3 linked regions of the Homo sapiens genome follow. The protein of the gene in region 1 interacts with the protein of each later gene in a pairwise test. Each region holds a gene or a part of one and is shown in the gene's direction. Other genes may lie near its edges.

Region 1 (8,577 bases):
TTGAGTTCATTGGTTCAAGCCTGCAGTTACAGGCAAGCCAGGTAGTTGCCTCTCTACTCTGGGTCTCCTGGATTTACCTCTCAAAACAAACTGGCCAGCCAGCCGCCTTGCACTTTGTTTTGTTATTCACGTTTGTGCTCAGAAATTTCCAAACATTGTCCTGTTAAAACAGTGATGGATAACAGTTCCGGAGAACTCTCTTTCCTTACACACCCACACGCCCACACACACAGCTGTGCCTCTGAAAACACTGCTGAGTTCTCTCTCAGCCCACTCAGTTAAATATCTTTATTAATTCTCCTCCTCACCCAGTTCCTAGATCAGGAGTTAGAATGCCTGGGTTCAAGTTTTAGCTCAATACTAATTATTTAGTTGTGTGACTTTGGATAAATCACTGACCCCTGGTGTCCTGAGGATCAGTGGGCAAAACAAATGTGAAGTGTAAATAGTGAGTTGAGAGACTCCATCCTCTCCTGTCTCCAATCAATGGTTTGTACTACTCAGGTCCTGCTGTTTCTTACTCCAGTTTAGTCCTAGAACCATTTGCTTGCCTAGGGAGAAAAAGCATACTTGGCCCGGCACGGTGGCTGACGCCCAACACTTTGGAAGGGGGAGGCAGGCAGATCACTTGAGCCCAGGAGTTCAAGCCTGAGGCTGGGAGTGATAGCTCACAACTATAATCCTAGAGCTTTGGGAGGCCAAGGTGGGTGGATCACTTGAGGTCAGGAATTCGAGACCAGCCTGGCCAACATGGTGAAAACCCGTCTCTACTAAAAAAAACACAAAAATTATATGGGCATGGTAGTGCATGCCTGTAATCCCAGCTACTCTGAAGGCTGAGGCAGGAGAATCACTTGAACCCGGGAGGCAGAGGTGGCAGTGAGCCCAGATCGTGCCATTACACTCCAGCCTGGGTGACACAGCGAGAGACCCTGTCTCAAAAAAAAAAAAAAAAAAAAAACGGGCAAGATAGTGGTTACCCTTCAGCAGAGTAGTAACTGACTGTGGGGTGGGGGATGGGCAAAAGGCGAGGCTTTGGCAAGTTCAGAATATTCTATTTGTTGATCTGTGCATTGGGCACAGACACGAGTGTGTTCAGTTTATGAAAATTCATCTGGCCGGGTGCAGTGGCTTACGCCTGTAATCCTAGCACTTTGGGACGCTGAGGTGGGTGGATTGCTTTGAGCTCAGGAGTTTGAGACCAGCCTGGGCAATGTGGCAAAACCCCATCTCTACAAAAAATATAAAAATGGGCCAGGCCTGGTGGCACGCACCTATAGTCCCAGCTATTTGGGAGGCTGAGGCTGGAGGATCGCTTGAGCCAGGAAGTAGAGGTTGCAGTGAGCCAGGATTGTGCTGTTGCACTCTATCCTGGGCAACAGAGTGAGACCCTGTCTCAAAAAATAAAATAAAAAAATTCATCAAGCAGTACACTTATATTTGTACTTTTTCTGTATATTACACTTCAATAAAAAGAAAGCAGGCTGGATGCAGTAGTTCACGCCTGTAATACCAGCACTTTGGGAGGCTGAGGTGGGCGGATTGCGTGAGGTCAGGAGTTCGAGACCAGCCTGGCTAACATGGTGAAACCCTGTCTCTACTAAAAATACAAAAATTAGCAGGGTGTGCTGGTGGACGCCTGTAATCTCACCTACTCAGGAGGCTGAGGCAGGAGAATTGCTTGAACCCAGGAGGTGGAGGTCACAGTGAGCCGAGATCACGCCATTGCACTCCAGCCTGGGAAACAGAGCAAGACCTCCACTCAAAAAAAAAAAAAAAAAAAAAAAAAAAAAAAAGTATTCCAGACTGGTTACAATACTGAAACTAAAGGAGTGATGAAGTCAACCTCCAGTCAGCTGTATTGATGCAAAGGAGAAAATATCCTAGCTGAGATAAAGATTCAAATACCAAGGATATCGTCTCTGATTCTTACCAAGGGCAGCCTGAAGTTCCTATTGCATTAATGCAGAAATTAGTTGAGGTCAGGGATTGTTTTTAAAATCCTAGAAGGAGCCGGGCATGGTGGCTCATGCCTGTAATGCCAACACTTTGGCAGGCTGAGGCGGGTGGATTGCCTGAGGTCAGGAGTTTGAGACCAGCCTGGCCAACACAGTGAAACCCCATCTCTACTAAAAATACGAAAAATTAGCTAGGCATGGTGGCAGACACCTGTAATCCCAGCTACTAGGGAGGCTGAGGCAGGAGAATTGCTTGAACCTGGGAAGTGGAGGTTGCAGTGAGCTGAGATCGTGCCATTGCACTCCAGCCTGGGCAACAAGAGCGAAACTCCATCTCAAACAAAAACAAAAATCCTAGAAGGCTGGGCACGGTGGCTCACACCTGTAATCCCAGCACTTTGGGAGGCTGAGGCAGGAAGATCGCCTGAGCCCAGTGTAACTGCCCAATGGGATCACCTTGCCTGCTGCTTACACAGCGGATATATCAAGACAGGGGAATTGCAATGGCAAAAGAGTAATTCACACAGAGCCGTCTGTGCAGGAGAGTGGAGTTTTATTATTATTATTATTATTATTATTTTGATTCAGCGTCTCGCTGTTTCGCCAGGCTGGAGTGCAGTGATGCGATCTTGGCTCACTGCAACCTCCACCTCCCGGGTTCAAGCGCTTCTCCTGCCTCAGACTCCCGAGTAGCTGGGACGACAGGTACGCGCCACCATGCCCAGCTAATTTTTGTATTTTTACTAGAGACGGGGTTTCACCATGTTGGCCAGGATGGTCTCGATCTCTTAACCTCATGATCCGCCTGCCTCAGCCTCCCAAAGTGCTGGGATTACAGGCGTGAGTCACCATGCCCGGCCTGGAGCTTTATTATTACTGAAATCAGTCTCCCTGGAGCATTAAGGGATCAGAGTTTTTAAAGATAATTTGGTGGGTAGGGGCTTAGGAAGTGGAGAGTGCTGATTGGTCAGGTTTGAGATTGGATCATAGGGAGTTGAAATGAGTTTTTCTTGCTGTCTTCTGTTCCTGGTTGGGATGGCAGACCTATTTGGGCCAGATTACCAGTCTGGATGGTATCAGCTGATGCACTGGGTGCAGGGTCTGCAAAATATCTCAAGCACTGATCTTAGGTTTTACAATAGTGATGTTATCCCCAGGAGCAGTTTGGGGAGGTTTAGACTCTTGGAGCCCATGGCTGCATGACCCCTAAATTGTAATTTCTAATCTTGTAGCTTAATCTGTTAGTCCTGCAAAGGCAGACTGGACCCCAGGGAAGAAGGGGGTCTTTTCGGGAAAGGGCTATTATCAATTTTGTTTCAGAGTCAAACCATGAACTGAATTCCTTCCCAAAGTTAGTTCGGCCTATGCCCAGGAATGAACAAGGACAGCTTAAGGGTTAGAAACAAGATAGAGTCAGTTAGGTCTGATTTCTTTCACTGTCATAAAATCATCAGTTATAATTTTGCAAAGGCAGTTTACCAGGAGTTTGAGACCAGCCTGGGCAACATAGTAAGACCCCTATCTCTACCAAAAAAAAAAAAAAAAAAATTAGCCAGGTGCAGTGGTGTGCACCTGTAGTCCCACCTACTCAGGAGGCTGAGGCGGGAGGATTGCTTGAGCCCAGGACTTTGAAGCTGCAGTGAGCTGTGATCACGCCACTGCACTCCAGCCTGGGCAACAAAGTGAGACCCTGTGTTAAAACAACAACAACAACAACAACAACTTTGGGAGGCCGAGGTGGGCGGATCACGAGGTCAGGAGATTGAGACCATCCTGGCTAACATGGTGAAAGCCCGTCTCTACTAAAAATACAAAAAAATAAAAAAAATAAAAATAAAAATTAGCCGGGCGCGGTGGCGGGTGCCTGTAGTCCCAGCTACTTGGGAGCCTGAGGCAGGAGAATGGCGTGAACCTGGGAGGGGGAGCTTGCAGTGAGCCGAGATCGCGCCACTGCACTCCAGCCTGGGTGACAGAGTGAGACTCCGTCTCAAAAAAAGAAAAACAAAAAAGCCAGGCGCGCGGTGGCTCACGCCTGCCTGTAATCCCAGCACTTTGGAAGACCGAGGCGGGCGGATCACAAGGTCAGGAGTTCGAGACCAGCCTGACCAACATGGTGAAACCCCGTCTCTACTAAAAATACAAAAATTAGCCGGGCGTGGTGGCTCGCACCTGTAATCCCAGCTACCCAGGAGGCTGAGGCAGGAGAATCGCTTGACCCCGGGAGGTGGAGGTTGCAGTGAGCCGAGATCGCGCCACTGCACTCCAGCCTGGGCGACACAGAGACTCCGTCTCAAAAAAAAAAATAAAAAAAAAATCATAGGAGCATCACAACTCACAGCACCTTCCTGTTGTCTGAAGGCCCCTCCTTTGGGTCCCTCAGGACTGGCTCCAGGGCTTCAGCCTTGGAACTAGTTGTGGACTTTGGGTCCCTTTGGAATATTTATCTTTGGCTTGGAATAATGCAACAACGTACCAGACCCAGCCTTGCCTTCTCTATGCCCCATTCCTCCCCAAATGACTCCAAGACTGTACCCCTAATCCTGAACCCTTTGCTGCACTTGCCCTAGTGAAAATCAAAGGTCTGCAAAGGCCGCGTCATTCCTGAATGATGTTCGGAGTCTGATGTCGTTTCTATGGGGGATTAAAATTAGCGACACTGGAGATGAATTACAGGGTGCAGCCAGTAAGGAGGGAGAGAGAGGGAGGCAGGTGCGATTCCTTCCACCTAAGCATCCTGGCCTGGCAGGCAACCTTTCCAGGGTCTTTCAGGCTGCAAGCGACAAATAGTTGAGGATTGTGGGTTTCTCACGCGTAGGTGGCAGCGGCAAGTTAACCCCAGGAGAGGTGCCAGTCAGCAGATAATTTGCAAACGAACGTATTCTCCTCCTCCTCCGAGGATCTGAGCCTCACGAAATACTCTTTTCTTCCTTTTTCTCCCTCCCGCAGTCGAGTTGCCTTCCGTCCAGCTAGGGTCCCCTCCCCGCCCGGGTCCCCTCCCCCTCCCGGTCCCCTCCCCCGCCCGGGCTCCTCTCTGTCTCCCCCTCCCGGACTGCGTCCTCGCTCCGCCGGGCCCTCCTCGCCGCCAGCTTGTGAATGAGACGCTCAGTTTCTCAATGGAGCCGCGGGGGGCTCGGGCGGCCGCGGGGCGGCCGCAGCGTTGGCCGTGAGTCAGGAGGGGGGCGCGTTTCCCTCGCTCCCTCTCCACTCCCTCCCTTTCGCTGCGGCCGCCCGCGAGGAGCCTGGCTGAGGCAGCCGCGCAGGTCGCAGGGCCAGCGTCCGCGAGGACGGCCCGGCTGGGCGGCCCCGAGCTCTGTGGCGCTGTGGAGGAGCGGGAGCGCGGCCGAGGAAGCGGGGCGCCGAGGGGGTCGGCGGCCTTCGGGAAATTTCCGCCGACCCTTCGCTCCCGGCTCTAAAAGTTCCTGATTTCCTATTTCCTTTTAAATCCCGAGTGGCTGTTAGCTCTTCGCCTGCACTTTTTCTTCCCCAGGAGATAAGGGGGAGTGTGAGGAACGGAGCGAATAATATAAAAAAGGATTTCCTCCCGGAAGAGAGCGGCAGTTCGGAGAGATTTTTCTTAAGGAAGCAGAAGCGGCGTTTGCGGCCGCTGCAGGCGCCGGGCCCTGCCGGCCACACTATGCGCGAGCCGGCCCCGGGCTGCTGAGGCGCGGGGACGCGGAAGCGGAGGCCGAGCGCGCCGGGCTCCCGCGCTCGCGAGCGAGTTTTGTCCGCCCGGCGGCGGTGGCGGGGGGATGGAGCCCGCGACCGCGCCCCGGCCCGACATGGCGCCGGAGCTGACCCCGGAGGAGGAGCAGGTAAGCGGGCCCGAGGCCGCCGCGTTGGGTGTGTCCGGGCCCCCGAGGCCTACGCCGGCCTCTGCCTCCCGAGTGCCGGCTCTTTGCAGCCACGGGGCCGCAGCCCCCCGCTCCCGTGCCCGGCTCGCGGGCCTCCCTCACCGGCGACCGCGCCCCAGGCCGCCACCCCCTCGTCGGGGGACCCACGGGACCCTACTCCCGTTCCCGCCGCTTCTTTCGCCGAGGCTTACCAGCCTCAGACGGTGCCCTCCGCACCCCACCCCCTATTCCAGGGGCAAAGTTCCTTGGATCCAGGGGCCTTCTTCCCGAGATTTGCAGAACCGCTGCTTGCCCCCGGCCCTTCCACTCCCTTGTAAATGTTTTCCGTGAGGGTTTGTGGCTTTTGAAGGGCAGGAAAAGCCCCAGTTTGGGGGGTGCTTCCTGTGGGGATTATCTCCCTTCCCGAGGAGAGGGCTGAGAGTATTGGATGCATAGATGCCCTAGATTTTCAGAGGAGCCTCTTAGGTTTCTCAGGCCCACTTGGGCAGGTTATGGAAGATCCAGCCCTTCTCGTGTTCCTAAAGTCCCTGGCCTTGACCCCCCTATTCAGCTATCCCAGACGGGGCGCATCTCCTCACCCGCGCTTCCCTACCCTCGTCTCATCTGACTGTCTCCATCTTTCTGAAGCTTACATTGAGCTCTATTGTTCCTTAAAAGCCTATGACCTTTAGTTTTCAGAAGGAAGTGGTTTGCTGTCTCATTTTGGGGGCCCTTGTAACTTTCCCTCCCGCACATTCCAGCTGCGGAGACAGGGACCACTCCTGAGGAAGATGGGAAGGTCTGCTAGCTTAGACTGGGAACCCTACGGGCTTTTCGCTGTCTCTTCCTTGGCACTGCCCATACCCCGCCATAGCTATGCTCGATTATAGTCATAGTCTGATTCCATGTTATAAATAAAAAAAATAAAAATAAACATGAAAAAAGAAAAAGGCAAACCATGCTGGCAACCCATTTCAAGCTCTACAGCTCTTGTTTCCAAGGACCACATTTGCTAGCACAGCCTCTAGTGTGAAGACAGTCCAGTTTTACAAACTATTATTGGCTAATGGGCTTGTTGACCTGATTTTTTAAAGTCCTTGTCTTTTCTCCTTATTTGTGGAGATGACATTTTTCTATTTGGCCTCAGGCCACGGTTTTGTCTTTTGACACCTGGTGATGAAATCTGTATGGGAAAAAAATTTAAAAAGAATTCTGCTTTGTACAAGCAGTGGTAATGAATGTCCTGGTAACTGCAGTTGGATGTTAATAAAATGCTAGTCAGACCCTAGTGCAAGCAGGTGGCCAAGGAGCCCATTCTGCCAGAATTGGGAAGTACTTCAGTACTAAGATAGGATGTGTTGGCTGATTTTAAAGGGACAAAATCTCTTTCTTTCATCCTTTTCCTTGGGTCAGTCAGATTTCTGTTTTTAAGACTTAAAGCCATCAGTATTCTATGCAAATAGCATCCGTTGCAAATTTGAAAACTAAAACCAGGAAAAGTAAATATTAAAGTATTGATAGTATTGACATGGTATTGGCTTTACTTTGTACATAGTGCATACACATATATACAGATGTGTTTAACTAGTAAAAACCTTATCTTTTACCCTGAATTGAATGTGATGGGCATTAACAAGGACTAGGATGGAAACGGCAAAATGTTTATTAAAGTCAAGAGATTGTGTGTGTGTGTGTTTTTAAAATCTTATCTCTTTTTTCTACAAAATATTATTTTTTTACAAGCATTTCAAAATATTGAAACAAAAGCAGTATAGTTCTAATTATGGTAATGCCTAATGTTACCATATTTTAGTTTAATATCACATAAGAGTACTCTCTTTTTTTTTGAGATGGAGTTTTGATTTTTTGTTTGTTTGTTTGTTTTTTTGAGACAGAGCCTCGCCCTGTCATCTAGGCTGGAGTGCAGTGGCCTGATCTTGGCTCACTGCAACCTCTGCCTCCAGGGTTCAAACGATTCTCCTGCCTCAGCCTCCCGAGCAGCTGGGATTACAGGCGCCTGCCACCATGCCCAGCTAATTTTTGTATTTTTAGTAGACGCGGGGTTTCACCATGTTGGCCAGGCTGGTCTTGAACTCCTGACCTCATGATCTGCCCGCCTCGTCCTCCAAAAGTGCTGGGATTACAGTCGTGAGTTACTGCGCCTGGCCGGAGTTTGGGTTTTGTTGCCCAGACTGGAGTACAATGGCGTGATCTCGGCTCACTGCAACCTCCATCTGCCGGGTTCAAGCGATTCTCCTGCCTCAGCCTCCTGAGTATCTGGGATTACAGGTACCCACCATGCCCAGCTAATTTTTGTATTTTTAGTAGAGATGGGGTTTCACCGTGTTGGCCAGGCTAGTCTCATCATACTCCTGGCCTCAGGTGATCCACCCGCCTTGGCCTCCCAAAGTGTTGGGATCACAGGTGTGAGCCACTGCACACAGCCAGAAGTACCCTTTTGTTTTTTAACTGAGTCTTGCTCTGTTGCCAGGCTGAAGTGTAGCGTTGTGATCTCGGCTCACTGCAAACTCTGCCTCCCTGATTCAAGCGATTCTCCTGCCTCAGCCTCCCAAGTAGCTGTGACTTCAGGCGTGCGTGCCACCATGCCCAGCTAAGTTTTGTATTTTTACTAGAGACGGGGTTTCACCATGTTGGAGGATGGTCTCGATTTCTTGACCTCGTGATCCACCCGCCTTGGCCTCCCAAAATGCTGGGATTACAGGCCTGGGCCGCTGTGCCCAGCCAAGAGTACTCTTTTTTTTTTTTTTTTTTTTTTTGAGATGGAGTCT
Region 2 (7,595 bases), on another chromosome or scaffold:
TTTCCTCCTGGGCCCGACCATCCAGTTTCTTCACCCCCTATTCAGACCTCATCTTGTGCTGGCCACCAGAGTCTCAGATGACAGGGATCCTCAGAGCTCAGACCTCCCCCGTGCTTTCCTTGGGCCCCTCCCGGGCTTCTGTTACCCGCTGGGTGGGCTTGGTGACCCCTGCCCCTGGAGCTCTCCACCTTAAATCAGCCCACCCCAGTCAGAAATCCCTGTGCTACCCCCTCGGTGGCTCATTGCTGCTCACTGGGATCTTTCTCTCTCTAATTGAAAAATTAAAATCTGGTTCTCATCTTTCCCATGCATAACCTCTGTGAAAAATGTCAGATACCTTAGCCCCAGCAGGTTTCCTGCCTGCATTTCCTCTCCGGCCTCTCTCTCCCAGGCATGCAGATTCCATCCCTCTATTCACACACGCATCCAGAGCCTACCCTGTCCTAGCCCCTGGGGATAGAGCAGTGCTCAAAACAAAGTCCCCACCCTGTGGGGGCTTGAGTTCTAGTTGAGGAGACAGACAGACAAGAGACAAGATAAATCATGCATATAGTATGATAGGTGGCTGTGAGCACTATGGAGAAACATTGAGAAAAGAATACAGGGAACCCCTGGGGAGGCGATTCTGCAGTTTCATAGCAGGATCAGGGAAGCCCTCACTGTGAAGGCGACATTTGGGCAAAGTCCTGAAGAAGGTAAGGGAGGGAGCCATGCAGCTACAGGAAGAACAGCACTCCAGGCAGAAGGAACAGCAGGTGCGGAGGCCCTGGGATGCATGCGTGTTCCAGGAACAGCATGGGGCCAGGGTGGTGGAATGGGTGAGTGAGAGGGGGCGTGGCGGGAGGCAAGCTCAGAGGGTTGATATGCAGGCAGCGCGGGCCAATTATCCAGAGCCTTTCAGGTCATCTTAAAGCATTTGGCTTTTACTCTGATGAGATGGGGAGCCATTCCAAGGCTCCGTGCAGAAGAGTGACATGATCTGACCCAGTATTGGGGCTGCAAAGACACTTCAGAGGTCAAGGATGGAAGTAGAGACCAGTTAGGGAGAGAAAGAGATGGTGGAGGCTCAGACCCGGTGATGAGCAGTCGTCAGGGGTGAGAAGTGATTGGATTCTTACATGTTGGAGGTAGAGCCCATAGGATGTGGGTGTGATGGAGGAGGTGAGGTTGGTGACGGGGCTTGCTAACCGGAAGGATGGGGTTATGGGAGGGGCAGGCCTGGGGAGGAAGATGCAATGCAGGCAGCCTGTGCACAGCACTTAGAGCTTTCTCGCCAGCTGTGTGTCGGCGGGTACGTACCTCAGTGCCTTTGCACATGCTGGCCTCTGTGCCTAGGAGGTTTCTCCTGCCCCGTCAGAACTCCAACTGCCTTCTCAAGTGTCCCTTCTGTGAATCTGTCCCTTCACCCCTCATCCCCATCTGTTCCTCTCTCTGCTTTGTGCACATTCGGGACCTCGCACGCATCGCAAAGCCATTACCGTATTGTGCCCCAGAAGGTGCCCCAGAAGTTAGGACTGAGCGCCATCCATCCCTGAAGCCCTGTGTGTACGAGTTCCTAACAGCTCAGTGTCCCCCACACAGTAGGGGCTCAACCAGAGACTGCCTGGGGACCTGGGTGGACTCCTAGCTCTACTGTCTGTTCCCAGGTTCTGCCACGTTGGGTCGCTCGCCTTGCCTGCGTGGACCTCGATGCTTACCTCTGTCAAATGGGCGTGCTCTTTCCCTCCCTGCCTCGGGGTGTCATGGGAGCCCGCTCGCAAGGATCCCGAAAGCTGGGGTTAGCGCGCCCTCTGCTGGACGATGAAAGACTCCGCGCGCTCTGCTCCCCAGTCCCCCAGGTGGCCCGGGGGAGGTGAAGTAAGGCGGGAGGGCGGGGGGACTACAGGAGAGGAGGGGGAGCTGCTGCACCCGAACATTTCCAGCGCACCCTACACACATGTCCTTACTTAATCCCTAGCCCGACTCTGTGGAAGAGCTTAGGTGAGACCCATTTTCCAGAGTTCCTACCTGTTTCCTACTTGCTACTGAATTTCTTACTCGTAGTTACCTTATTTTTTTTTTTTTTTTTTAAGAGGAGAAGCGACTCAGAGAGAAAAGGGGCGAAGAAGGCTGGGCCGTGTAGAGGAAAGAAAAGGCGCGAGAGAAGAAGACTGCCCGGGTGACCGCGAGGCCTCTGAGGAATGGCTGAAGAGCAGATCCATCTACATGGGGCTGGGAGGGGAGGTGCGGTCACCGCTCAGCCGCCGACTCAGCCGAGGGAGACCTTGGCCAGCCCCTGCCACTCCGCAGGCTCGGTTTCCTCGCCTGTGAAATGCGGGCGATGACTCCCCTCCCCGCCGCGACTGCTCATCACCGGGTCCGAGCCCAGCCGCTGACCCCGGGGGAAGCGCCTTGCTCAGCGCCGGGCGGCCCACGAGGCCCTGCAGGACCGCGGCTGCGGAGACCGTTCCCGCCACCCGCCTGGGCTCCAGGGCCAGACGGGCTGAGGTCCCTCTGGGCCTCCGTCTCCTTTCCAGGGAGGGGCACCGGCTAGGTAACACGGCACTCGCCCTTTCCCTTCTCTGAGCCTGTAGTAGATGATGATAATAATGTTTCCGTGGAAGGTCCTGCTTTGTTAATAGTCACAGATTACAAAGTACTTGCCTTTTCCCACTCCCCTTATGTCCCTTCCCTGTACAAAACCTGGGAGGTGGCCTAATACCTATCCCCAATCTGCAGTTGACAAAACTCTAGCCCGGAGCAGAGCCACCTGCCTGAGCTCACCCTGAGAACCAGACCTGGACATGACCTGATAACTCAGCCCTTTCCTGCCCCTCAGCCATCGCTCAGCCAGGGCCCCTGAGCTCCCTCCAGGACCTCCTCTGCGAACTGTCAAGTGCACCTGGACTCTGAGGGCTGGCGATGGTGGGTGTGAGGAAGGAGAAACCCCTGTTGGAAAAAGGGCCTATGAGAAGGACGTCTAGTTAGAGGGGCAGCTGTGAGCACAGGTGTGGGGTTAGGGAACAAGGGCAGCCCTGCTGGCAGGAGGGGAGAAGGTGATGACCGCCAACAGGAAATCCCCAAGCCCAGCAAGTCAGGGAGCCCATTGAAAGCCTTTTATCCTGCATCGGCGATTTAACCCCATGTAAACGCCAAGTGAACATTCTCTTGTAGAGACCGATGGTCCTCATTTTCCTGTAATCCTGTAAAGGAATCTGATTTCTTCCATCAGCCTGTCCCTAGGACTAAAATGCCTCATTAGTGTTATTCTTAGGAAGGCATCTTCCTAGATCAGGCTGCAAGGAAATGGAGGAAGTGACTGTCAGTCACTCACACCCTGCAGGGGCACTAATTCCGAGAGCCTTAGGGGTGGGTGGGGAGCAGTTCATTGAAAGCCCAACTGGGTGGTGCATAGCGTGTGAATGTGAAGGGGATGGAGGAACCCAAGGAGGCCAGGCCTGGAGACAGCACCAAATCTGGGAGGTACATTATTATTCCCATTTTACAGAGGAGGAAACTGAGGTAACCTGATCATGACCACACTGCCCCACAGTAGAGGAGCCAGAATCCAAACCCAGGCAGCCTGCCTTGCCACCAGAGCCACGCTTTTCACCCTCAAGCTGCAGTTAAGAAGTATCACGCCGTGGCTAGGCCCACGGCCTCTGGCTTCACATCCCACTAGCTCTGCCATCTTTAGCTGTGTGACCTTGGGCAAGTTACTTGTCTGTGCCCGAGGGTCCTCTGTAAAGTGGGGATAGTAGTAGCTGCTTCACTGGGTTCCCTTCAATGAGTTAATAGCTGTAACATGTTTAGAATGGTGCCCTGCACATAGTCACCAGCCAGTACATATGGGCCATTATTCCTGAACCCTGGATAGGCACATGTCCTTGAAGAGTGTAGAATTCTTCAGGATTCTGAAATGCCAGCCTGTGGGATCCTGGAATCCTCCAATAGCATTCTAACAGCTCTCAGCTGCAGAACTGTACCCTGTTTTCTAGAGCTGGAAGGTGTGAGGCTGCCTGTCCACCCAGCTCAACCCCACAGTAGGCAAATGAGGTGATGTCAAAGCCTTGGCTGGGGCCCAGCCCCGGTAACCTCCCACTCTCCCTCCCCTGTGTGCTCCCTCGCTCAGATTCACACACACACTCCAGGCCAGCCGGGCCCAGAGGGAAGGTGAGAGGGCAAGGAGTAAAGGTGGCTGGGTGTGGGTCCGTTGAAGCGAGCCGCCTCCAGCCCTGTTGAACTGGTGGGCCCAGGGACTGGAGCGGGATTGAAAGGGATCTTGCTCTCCCTTGAAGCCTTGAGTTGCAGCGATTTCAGTGTCTTCTCTCCCTGTGTAAGCCTGTCTCGGTGTTTAGGCTGAACTACAGCCACCCCCTCTCCCGGGGGTGTGCAGGCCAGGGACTGGCCAGGCAGCCATGGCTGACGAGAAGACCTTCCGGATCGGCTTCATTGTGCTGGGGCTTTTCCTGCTGGCCCTCGGTACGTTCCTCATGAGCCATGATCGGCCCCAGGTCTACGGCACCTTCTATGCCATGGGCAGCGTCATGGTGATCGGGGGCATCATCTGGAGCATGTGCCAGTGCTACCCCAAGGTAGGTGGTAGTGGGGCTGGGTGGGGCCAGGTCAGCTGGGGCCAGGAGGGCTGGACACTGTGCCTGTATGCCATGCCTCACCCCCTATCCTTTAGTTGTCTTTTCATTCTTCTCATTTTGACTCGGTCTTCTCTCTGCTCTCCTGAGCGTCTGTCCCATCCATCCATCCATCCATCCATCCATCCATCCATCCATCCCTTAGCCTAAGGGTTGATCAGAAGGCCCCTGGATCTGGAGCCCTGAGCCGGAAGCTATGGTATAGACACAGCAAACACAACACACCATGTGCTTGAAACAAAAGCTAATGAGCGCTGACCCCCTGCCAGGCACTCCTGCGTTCAGGGTGCAGTTCAGCCCTCATCCTAAGCCTTTTGGTGCTTTCTGTAGTTCCACCTTCTGAGCCTTTCTGAGGTCCAGAAAGAGAGGCTGCACAGCTAACGAGCAAGGTTTGGAGCTCAGATGCGTGTGACTTACACGTCACCCTTCACCTTGGGTCTTCTACCTCTGGGTCCCAGAGCGACTGAGAGCTCCAGGGTAGGTCAGGTCTAACCTTGGTGGCATGCACTGGGCAGTATCCTTTAGAGTCTTCATGTATTCTCAGCCTTATGTGTAATTTAGTGATGGGAAGAGCACTGGTTTGGGAGTCCTGAGTTCTAGTTCAAGTCCTGTTCCAAACTCTCTATGACCTTTGTCTTTCTGAGCCTCATTTTTTTCATCTGCAAATGAGATCCCTGCCCCTATTTTCCACAGAGCTTCACAGGGTCATTATAAAGATCAGAGAAGAGATAAGATATAGGAATATTTTGTAAACTGTAAGGTGTTATTTATAGATGAAGGGCTACCACTGTTACCCATACTGATCCTCCCAACAGCTCTGTGGAATGGAAATGCCAGGAGTTGCGAATCTTCAATGCCTAGAGAGGCTGGGTGACTTCCAAGGTCACACAGCTGGTCAGGTACAGACCCAGGGAGAAAAGGAGGGAAATAGGGACTCTAACTTGGGCTCTGTCTCTTACTGCCTGGGAGACTTTGCTCAAGCCCCTTTCCTCTCTGAGCCTCAGTTTCCTCATTTGTACACTGTGTGAGTTAGGAGGGGGGGGTGGGAAAGGGGGTATATCTGGGGGCCCTGCTGGACCTAATATCTAGGGCTCCAGGTCCAGGCAGTCCTCAGCAACCCCCACACCTCCTCTCCTCCCACCTGGGTGGCTGTGCTCAGGGTTTCAGGGAAGAAGGGGGATGGCTCCCTGGGGCCTGGGCCGGCTCTCCCCAGCCCTGCCCCCTCCACGGGCCAACCCTGGGCTGTCATTCTGTTCAGTGCTGGAGCGGTCTGGGCTGGTTTGTAGTCATTTAGCAGGCAGTTTACAGTCAACTTGCCTCTGTCTGTGCAATTCCTTGAGCAGAGGTCACTGGGAGAAGTCCTTGGGGCCAAAGCCACTCATGTCACCACTGCTATTATAATCCTTCTCCCAGTGAGGAGGCTGGACCCTGGGGGACAGCAGAGGGATGGCAGAGGTGTGGAGAGGAGCATCCTTCCTGCCCCCGCTCTTAAATAGAGCTGGCTCTGGGATGGTTGGTAGGCTGATGGGAGTGACGGTAGAGGGGAGGGGAGGGGAGGAGGGAATATTGCTGGGTATTAATGAGTAACTGTTGATAGATTCATGGGTTCACGTGCTGTGGAGGCAGCGTGGTGGGCTGAAAATGGCACATGTTGTGGCAACCTCCAGGCCCAGATTCAAATCCCTGCTCCTTCATGTCCCACTTCTGTGACCTTGGCAGAAAGAGTCCCTCCCCCTCAGCTCTGAGCCTTGTACGGCTGATTGGGAGAACACAGTGGGATCGTGTGTGTGTGTGTGTGTGTGTGTGTGTGTGTGTGTGTGTGTGTTGGGGGAGACCTGGCATCACACCTGCCATGGAACATATGTGAAGGCATTGTTCTTAGGATTGAGGATTGGTATTTGCGGCACTGGGTGGGCCTCTGCATGAGTGCAGGTGTGTGTGAGTGTGTGTTTCAGAGATGCAGGCTGGTAGAGCCAGCACAAATTGACTCCAATAAGGGAAGGGAGGAAAGCACCTTATAAACCAGGGAGACACTCTAGAGGCGAAGCTCCCTGGATCCTGCTTGGTCTCATTGGTGCCTGGGCCAACGCTGCCTGCAGTGCTCCTGCCTGTCCTCCCCTCAGCCTCCTCCCCGTGGCTCTCTGTGCCAGACCTATGGAAAGTTTTGATAAATGGGGAGATATAAATATAAGGGAATAGAATTAGCTAATTAGGATATAGGGGTGAGGGGTAGCCAATACCAACATGCATTAAGCTGTCCATGTCTTTTAGGGGCTAGAGGTCTAGTGGGAGAGGCTATTTGCTGCCTGATGGGGAGGAAACAGGCTTCACAGAGAAGGTGAGCTGGGCTTTGTAGGTGAGATAAGAGTTCACCAAGCAGAGAAGATGGGGAAAGACATTCCAGGCAGAAGAGTAGCATGATCAAAGCAATGTGGTAAAAGAATAAGGCAAGTGGGCCATTGTGGCTACGAGAGGCAGAGGGGAGGAAGGTAAAGGTAGCGAGGGAGTGGGGCTCAACTCTTCAGGGCCTGGGATGCCATGGTAAGGAATTTGGAGCTTGTCCTTTAGTTAATGGGACACGACCAGCTTTGCAGTTTGAGAAAGACATCCAGAAGAAGGAAGGTCTGGGGGCAGCCATACCAGTGGGGAGGCTTCTTCTCTGGTCTTGGTGAGAGCTGACAGTCATCTGGAATAATGCAGAATTCAAACACAAAGCTGTAGGAACTAAGGTGACATTTACAGTTCACTTCACATAGAGTACCCGTTGTGGCTAGGCATAGCACCAGCACTTCCACCCAGGTTATCTTATTGAATTTCTGAAGTAGACCTGGTCAGATTTGGTGGTCAGCTGGGCCTCAGGCATGAGAGAGGAGAAGGGATCAGGGCAAATCTAGTGGATGGGACAGTTGGAGGTGCTGAGCCCATTAGTGAAGATGGGGCAGGGGAGCTGTGAGCAGGGAAAGG
Region 3 (7,955 bases), on another chromosome or scaffold:
ATGAAAATACAATAGGTTTTTGTATGTTGATCTTTCATCCTGCAACCTTGCTGAACTAATGTATGAGTTCTGATAGTTTTAGTGGACTCCTTAGGATTTTCTATGTACAGAATCATGTCATGTGAATAGAGTTCATTTTCCTTCCTTTCAAATCTGGATGATTTTAATTTCCTTTTCTTGCCTGGTTGCCCTGGCTAGCCTCCGGGACAATGTTGAACAGAAGTGGCAAGAACAGGCATCCTTGTTTTGTTCCTGATCTTAGGGGGAAGCATTCAGCGTTTTGCCATGTAAGCATGCTGTTAGTTGTGGGGTTTTGTAGATGCCTTATGTTAGGTTGAGGGGCTTCCTTTATACTCCTTAGTCGTTGAGTATTTTAGTTTACTTTTAACTATATACAGATATATTACTTTCCAGTTAAAGTAGTCAGTTACTCTGTTAAGACAAAAATATTGGGTCAGCATTTTAGACATAGTATATAGTCCCATACTGCATCTTTGGGTCAGCGATGGACCACATATGACAGTGGTCCCGTGAGATTATAATCCTCTATTTTTGCTGTATTTTTCCTATGTTTAGATACACAAACATTTACCATTGTTAGAATTGCCTGTAGTATTCAGTACTGTAACATGCTGTATAGGTCGGTAGTCTAGGAACAATAGGCTATACCACAGAGCCTAGGTGTACAGGAGGCGCCACCATCCAGGTGTGTGTAAGTGCACTCTAGAATGTTCACACAATAGCAAAATCGCCTAATGATGGCGTTTTTCAGAGTGCACCCTCGTTGTTAAAGCTTAGTTTTAGTGTTACTTTGCTTACCCCTTCCCCGGTTGATCAGCACGTAGGTTGCTTGGATTTTCTTCATGCTCACAGGTGTGTGTTAGTCAACATTCAGCCAGTGTTTTTGGAGCAGCTATGGGTGCCTGGTGGTTTCTCAGGGCTGAGGATACAGCAGTGGCAAAACTCAGCCATCTCTGCCTTCTTGGAGTTTCTAGTTGGAGGGAGAGAGTAGTGTGAAGCCTCTGTCCAGAGGGTGGGCCTGCTGGTGGGAAGGCCTGTCACTGTGGTGACCGTGTGAGGTGACGGCTGGGAGGTGGCTTGAGAGCTGGTGAGTGGGTCTGTCTGCTCTGGTTGCCATGGCTGAGGCTCAGCCCACTTCCCCAGGGCCTGCCCTCCACGGATGACTGGCGACGGACGGTCTCCTTACGGCCGCATTCTGTCCCTGCCCGCCTGTGTTCTTGCCGTTGGCTCAGAACTCCCTCTCCCAGCCTCTCCTGGTGTCGTCACACCCCAGGCTCCCTGGACCCTTCTGTGACCTGCCTGTCATCCCAGCCCGCTCTCCTTGGGCTGACCCTGGGCTGCAGGGAACAGGATGGGTGTCGGCCGGTCTGTCCCACACAGCTAGCTGACGAGGTGGTTTCTGGGGCAGGAGTGGAGGCAGCACAGACAGTGAGGACGAAGAAGAGGAGGACGAGGAGGAGGAGGAAGACGAGGAGGGCATTGGCTGTGCAGCCCGTGGAGGGGCCACCCCTCTGTCCTACCCCAGCCCTGGCCCTCAGCCTCCAGGTGAATGAATGGGCGGTGTGGTCAGGTGTACACAGGGCTGTCTGCCTGCTACTGAGTTCACCCTCCATCCCGCTCCCCCACCTCTATCCCAGGCCCCAGCTGGACAGCCACCTTTGACCCAGTGCCTACAGATGCCCCGACCAGCCCCCGAGTCTCCGGGGAGGAAGAGCTGCACACTGGGCCTCCAGCCCCACAGGGGCCCCTCAGTGTGCCCCAGGGCCTCCCCACTCAGAGCCTGGCCAGCCCTCCTGCCCGTGACGCCCTGCAGCTCAGGTGAGAACCGGATGGAACGGGCTAAATGGTGCTGGTATCCCGAGGCCAGGAGGTGGCCATGGGGTCCCCGTCCTCTCATAGGCTCGAGTGCTAACCCTAGCTGCCCCCTTGGGCTGCCTCTCTCGCCTACCAGGTCTCAGGACCCCACACCCCCCTCAGCACCTCAGGAAGCCACAGAAGGCAGCAAAGTCACGGAGCCCTCAGGTGAGCCCCGCTTTGCCCTGCCCACCCGCGGCCCTGGGCAGAGAGAGCAGCCTGGCCAGCTCCGAGCTTGCTGGGAGCTGCAGCTGAGATCTCTTATCCCCCACAGCCCCTTGCCAGGCCTTGGTTAGCATCGGGGACCTTCAGGCCACCTTCCACGGGATCCGTTCTGCCCCCAGCTCCTCGGACAGGTGAGCAGCGAGGTGGGGCTGCCTAGTATCGGGAGAAGTCTTTTCTCCTCTTCGCTGAGGTGGGCTCTGGGTTCATCTTGTCCCTGAGCTGCTCCAGGCCTCCTTTGCAGGACCCCCAGGCGCAGCCTCATGTTGTGCCCCAGCCCCTTGCACTCTGTAGGCTGGTTCTTCTCTTAGTAGCCTGGGATGCTTGGGGCCCTTGAGCCCCAGGGTTGGGAAGGGCTCGTTGGAGGGTGTGAAGGATTGGGAGGGTGAGAGCATGCAGAAGACCCTTTGGGGCTGTCTCAGCCGGCCTCGAGTACCTCCTCCACAGGGACAGGAGGCGGGAAGAGGGGTGCTTGTCTTCCTGTCCAGGGCTGTGCTGTCCCTCCACGCTGAGCCAGCTGCGTCCTCGGGAGGCCCCTCCCCGTGGGGCAGGTGGCAGACACACACCCAGTGAGCCGACTTCAGTCGGGTGGGATGTGAGGGTGTCAGCAGGTGACGGTGGGGGCCACGCTGACAGCCGCACCTGCCTCTCACCCACAGTGCAACCAGAGACCCCTCTACCTCTGTCCCAGCCTCCGGGGCCCACCAGCCCCCCCAGACCACAGAAGGGGAGAAGAGCCCAGAGCCCTTGGGGCTTCCCCAAAGCCAGAGGTGAGCACCAGGGCAGCAGGGCGGGGGGGTGGGGGTGGGGCTGGTGGGGCAGGAAGTGACCTCTGCACATCCCCTCTCTCCCCTGACAGTGCCCAGGCCCTCACGCCTCCTCCGATACCCAATGGCTCTGCCCCGGAAGGGCCTGCATCCCCAGGCTCCCAGTGAGTGTGGCTGCAGCCTCGGGCTGGGTAGGTGGGGCTGGGCCTGCTAGACCCTCACACGACATCTCCCTCTGTTTCCAGATAGCTGCCTGGTGCGGCAGCGGCGGCCAAATCTTCCGTCCTCCCGTGGATCTCCCGGGGTGGGGGCAGGGCGGGTCCCACGATGGCCCCCATTGCCCTCATCACCCTGACACCCCCACATTCTCTCCTCTGGACCCCCAGGAGGCTGGTGCCAGGGAGACAGGCCCAACCCACCCCCATTTGCACTGAGAAGAGAAGTTTTGGAGCGTTGCCTCCTAGAATAAAGATACAGAGAGTCAAATAGAGAGAATGGAGAGAGAGAAACATATATTATATATTATATAGAGAGAGGGAGGAGAGCGAGAGAGAGTGAGGACACCGAACTGGGCTGGCGGCTCCAAAGCACAGCCTTCCCTGTTCCGTCCCAGCGGGAGCTGGTGTTAGGGGTCCCAAGGTTGCCACCCACGTGCCCAGCTGTCCCACGCTGCAGCGCAGACGGCCACGCCCACACCCGGCCTTTTAGCTCAGGTCCACCATGGGGGACGGCCCAGCGTGGGTGGGGGTGCCAGAGGGTCCCGAGTGGGGGCCGTGCCTTTGCCCAGACCCTGCACTTTCAACCAGGCCAGTCCGGCTCTGGGGAGCAGGGGCCTCCCCGGCAACAGCCCCAGGGGCCTTGAGGGTCTGAGGTCCCAGCCCTGTTGCCAAGTGACCTTGTCCCCAGCTCCCTCCTCCCAGGCTGGTGTGAGTGTGCGTGCGTTTGTGCCGAGCTTCTATTTCATATTGCAAATATAAATAAAGGAAGGCAGTTTACGATTCTGCTGGTCAGACCTTACGTTCTGGGATGCGGGGTGGGGAGCCTGTATTATCCCTGCACCCCAGAGGCTGGGGGTGCTCCTGACCCAGTCTGCCCCCACACTGTCCTGCCAGAGGGAGCCCTGTGGCTGCAGAGGCCCCAGGCTGGGCCAGGCACTGGCTGTGAGGGCTCCTGCCAGGTCTACCCCACCTGTGGGCAGGGCCTTGGGCAGAGGATAGAAGCCACCGACAGGCTCAAATCCCTGCTCCTGCCCCTGCTTACCCCCAGTAACCAAGCCCAGCATTGAGGCTGGGTACTGGCGCCCAGTAGGTCTGAGTCTTTCAGGTAGAAGGTAGAAGTGTAGGCTGCGTGTGCAGCGAGTGGCACCGGTGAGCGGCGCTGGGAAACCGGAGCGTGTGGACCGGGCCATGAGGACAGCGTCCTCACTGGGGTGGCAGTTGGCTTGGAGGTCACCTGGGGGCTCGCTCAGCTAACAGGAGAGGGTGCTTGTTCCCCGCATTCGTGGTGGTCCCTCCTGGTCACCCATTGAAGCAGTGTTTGTGGTGGAGCCCCTGAGGGCTTGGTGGGGTTGAGCAGAATGAGGAAAGGTTTCATGGAGCAGGGAGGGAGACGGCTAGGGCAGCAAGTGAAGGACAGACTCGCCTTCCCATCCCTCCAGGGGCACTCCTGCCAGCCAGCCCCTCTCCCGCTTCCCATGATGGGGTGGCTGTTGGAATTCTGCACCCCATCTCTTCTGATTGTTGGGGCCCAGGACAAGGGGACAGGCATTTGTGGGCCTAACCTCCCCAGGCAGATAGGAGGAGGAAGCCATGTCCCAGCAGGCTAGGGCAGAGGGACCCCCAGTGCCAACAGTGCTTTATCAGCGGGCGCCAGGCAGGGCCATCCCCAGGGTGAGGACAACATCTCCCTGGGCCCTGTTATCAGTCACAGAGTCCACAGGACGCTCCTTGGGTTAACGTGTAACCATGAGCCCTCCCCTCCACCCCCTGAAGCCACTCGCTCCCAGATTAGGTCGCTCTGGGGCTATCAGGCCAGCATGGACGCTGGCAAAGCGGGGCAGACCCTGAAGACTCACTGCTCAGCCCAGGTGAGAGCCTTCTGAGCTGTGCCTGGGGCTGGGGGGACAGGGCCCTGGAACCCCAGCAGCCGGCGGGTCTGGGAGCTGCTGTCCTTGAGTTGGTTGGGCCCTGGGAAGCTGGGTTCTGGCAGCCTGGTCCCTGAATGGGTCCAGCCTGTACAGCTGGGGTCCCAGGTGGGGGTGGGACAGGAGCCATGAGATCTGAGTCCCAAGAATGGGGGCTGGGCTGGGTTTCGGCTCAGTAGCTCCCCACTCCCCAAAGCGCCCAGATGTCTGCAGGTGGCTGAGCCCCTTCATCCTCTCCTGCTGCGTGTACTTCTGCCTCTGGATTCCCGAGGACCAGCTGTCCTGGTTCGCTGCCCTGGTCAAGTGCCTGCCCGTCCTCTGCCTGGCTGGGTTCCTGTGGGTCATGTCCCCAAGCGGGGGCTACACCCAGCTCCTCCAGGGAGCCCTTGTGTGCTCGGCTGTGGGGGACGCTTGCCTCATCTGGCCGGCAGCCTTCGTCCCTGGTGAGTGGAAGGTGCTGTGACGCTTTCCAGATGCCCGTGTGAGAGAGGCCCCAGCACTTGGATGGGAGCCTGGGTGCAGAGGGCTCCTGTGAGAGCTCCAGTGGTCAAAGGCACAGTGGGGGGCGCAGCCGTGACCGAGGCAGCTCACGCTCCAGCGAGGGGTGGGGGCAGGCGGTGTTAGGGCAGTAGCTGAGGTGGCGCAGAGGGCAGTGAGGACCTGCTGGAGGTACTGCAGTTTGAAGCAGGGTTGCTGAGGAAGGCCTCACTGAGGAAGTCACATTTGGGCAGAGCTGAAGGGCTGTATGCCTGTGTGGAGGAAGGGCGAGTGTAAAGGCTCCGGGGCAGGGACGTGTCAGGTGCTTGTAGCCCAGCAGGCCAGGGTGGCTGGCGCAGAGTGGCTGGAGAGCTGGAGGCCATGGGGCTTTGGAGGCCAAGGGAAGGTGGGGCCTCCTGGCAGTTCTGAGCAGAGCAAGGATGGACACTGCATGTGGGGAGACCTGCAAGGAGGCTCGGCCAGGGTGGGGCCTGGTGCTCTGGGATGGTCCTTCTCTTAGGCCCTGAGGGGTGACCTCGGGGCCATTCCCAGGATGGGCCTTCCTCACTGGTACCCCACCCCTCTCCCGCCAGGCATGGCCGCCTTTGCCACCGCCCACCTCCTCTACGTCTGGGCCTTCGGCTTCTCTCCCCTGCAGCCCGGCCTGCTGCTGCTCATCATCCTGGCCCCTGGCCCCTACCTCAGCCTTGTGCTCCAGCACCTCGAGCCGGATATGGTCCTGCCGGTGGCAGCCTATGGGCTGATCCTGATGGCCATGCTGTGGCGCGGCCTGGCCCAGGGCGGGAGTGCCGGCTGGGGCGCGCTGCTCTTCACGCTCTCTGATGGCGTGCTGGCCTGGGACACCTTCGCCCAGCCCCTGCCCCATGCCCACCTGGTGATCATGACCACCTACTATGCTGCCCAGCTCCTCATCACACTGTCAGCCCTCAGGAGCCCGGTGCCCAAGACTGACTGACTAGGGAGCTTGAAGGGCCGGTGTTCAGGCCCTCTCCTCCTGCAAGGACCTGGGCCTCCCAGCCCAGCCCAGCCTGAGAAATACCCTCAGCAGCGAAGCTTCCTGACGCCTGTCTGCAGGCGCCGCTGCCGCCGTCGCTTCTGGCTGAAGACGTTTGAGGACGATTTGCGGAATTCCAAGTCCACTACTGGGTTCCAGCTGCCTTCCCCCGGTTCTGACTCCAGATCCCTGGCTCCTCAGCCAGGCCCACATGGAGCCCTCCCAGCCACCAGCCTGCCTCCATGTTCACTGTCGGCCCCACAGCCTGCCCGCCCCCTGCTGCTGCTCTGAATCCGTTTTCCCTGTGGGTGTGGAACCGTAGATGTTGCTGTTACCGTAGGAGAGGCCTCGGGGAGGGTCATGATTGTGATAAACCATCGCGGTTAATGACAGCAGAAGGTTCTTTGTCGCTCCCCATGGACCAGGCCTGGTGCCCAGTGGGACCCTCCATGGCCCTCTGGTGGGGGGATTCGGGGGGATAAAGTGAGGATTGTGCAGAACTGAGCCAAGAGGACTGTTTGGTCTTTGTGTTAGTTTCCTGAGGCTGCTGTCACAAATTACCCCAAGCCAGATGCTTTGAAACAAGATGAATGGACTCTCCTGCAGTTCTGGAGACCCAAAGTCCAAAATCCGGGTGTTTTCCGGCCCATGGTCCCTCTTGAGGCTCCAGGGAAGAATCCGTCCTTGCCCTCTCGGCTTCTGGAGGCTCCCGGGAATCCCTGGCTTCCATCGGCCTGTGGCTGTGTCTCTCCGTCTTCATGTGACTGTCTTCAACTGGCAGCCTCCCTCTGTGTCCGCATCCTTCTAGGGACACAGGTCATTGGATTTAGGGCCCACCCTAAACCCAGGGTGATTCTATCTCAAGATCCTTAAGTATGTCTGCAAAGCCCCTATTTCCAAGTAGTGTCACCTGCAGAGGTATCTGGGGTTAGGACTTGGACATATCTTTCTAGGGGATACAACCCGCTGCAGTCACATGCAGTATCGGGAGAAGGGTGGGAGGCTTGAGGATGAGGGGTCTTGGAGGAGGGAGGGCGGCAAGGGGGTAGGAATCAAATGGGAAGGAGGAACCCAGCTGTGCTCCTTGTCAAGGCTGTGTGACCTCGGCAAGCTGCTATCCCTCAGGTCCTCAGATTCTGCATCTGAAGACTTGACAGGGTCCAAGCTGCTCTCCAAGACCCTATTTGACTTCTGCATCCATGATGTGCTTTCAGTGACTCATAGCAGAGGGGCGACTTCTCCATCCATGGTTAGCATTTAGAGACTCTTACAGCAGAGAGGCGACCTCTCTATCCATGACCTGCATTTAGGGACTCTTAGAGCAGAGGTGACTTCTCCATCCATGACCTGCATTTAGGGACTCTTACGACAGAGAGGGGACTTCTCCATCCATGGCCAGCATTTAGGGACTCTTACAGCAGAGAGGTGACTTCTCCATCCATGACCTGCATTTAGG

The links. Proteins that work in one complex are often made in the same cells at the same time.
Region 2: the proteins of PTPN9 (region 1) and BSND interact in binary tests that used the Homo sapiens proteins (3 or more experiments, as listed by UniProt).
Region 3: the proteins of PTPN9 (region 1) and TMEM86B interact in binary tests that used the Homo sapiens proteins (3 or more experiments, as listed by UniProt).

The regions. Positions count from the first base shown.
Region 1 is NC_000015.10:75,575,907-75,584,483, reverse strand, and holds the start of PTPN9 (tyrosine-protein phosphatase non-receptor type 9), read left to right. Parts: upstream 1-5,168; 5' UTR 5,169-5,707; coding exon 5,708-5,770; intron 5,771-8,577. UniProt on the Homo sapiens protein: Protein-tyrosine phosphatase that could participate in the transfer of hydrophobic ligands or in functions of the Golgi apparatus.
Region 2 is NC_000001.11:54,994,790-55,002,384, forward strand, and holds the start of BSND (barttin), read left to right. Parts: upstream 1-4,143; 5' UTR 4,144-4,397; coding exon 4,398-4,574; intron 4,575-7,595.
Region 3 is NC_000019.10:55,225,686-55,233,640, reverse strand, and holds TMEM86B (lysoplasmalogenase TMEM86B), read left to right. Parts: upstream 1-4,877; 5' UTR 4,878-4,899; coding exon 4,900-4,950; exon of another isoform or gene 4,951-5,155; coding exon of another isoform or gene 5,156-5,203; coding exon 5,204-5,450; intron 5,451-6,077; coding exon 6,078-6,460; 3' UTR 6,461-7,003; downstream 7,004-7,955. Other genes in the region: PPP6R1 (serine/threonine-protein phosphatase 6 regulatory subunit 1), read left to right, coding at 1,430-1,566, 1,659-1,839, 1,973-2,043, 2,150-2,231, 2,757-2,867, 2,957-3,028, 3,110-3,113. UniProt on the Homo sapiens protein: Catalyzes the hydrolysis of the vinyl ether bond of choline or ethanolamine lysoplasmalogens, forming fatty aldehyde and glycerophosphocholine or glycerophosphoethanolamine, respectively and is specific for the sn-2-deacylated (lyso) form of plasmalogen.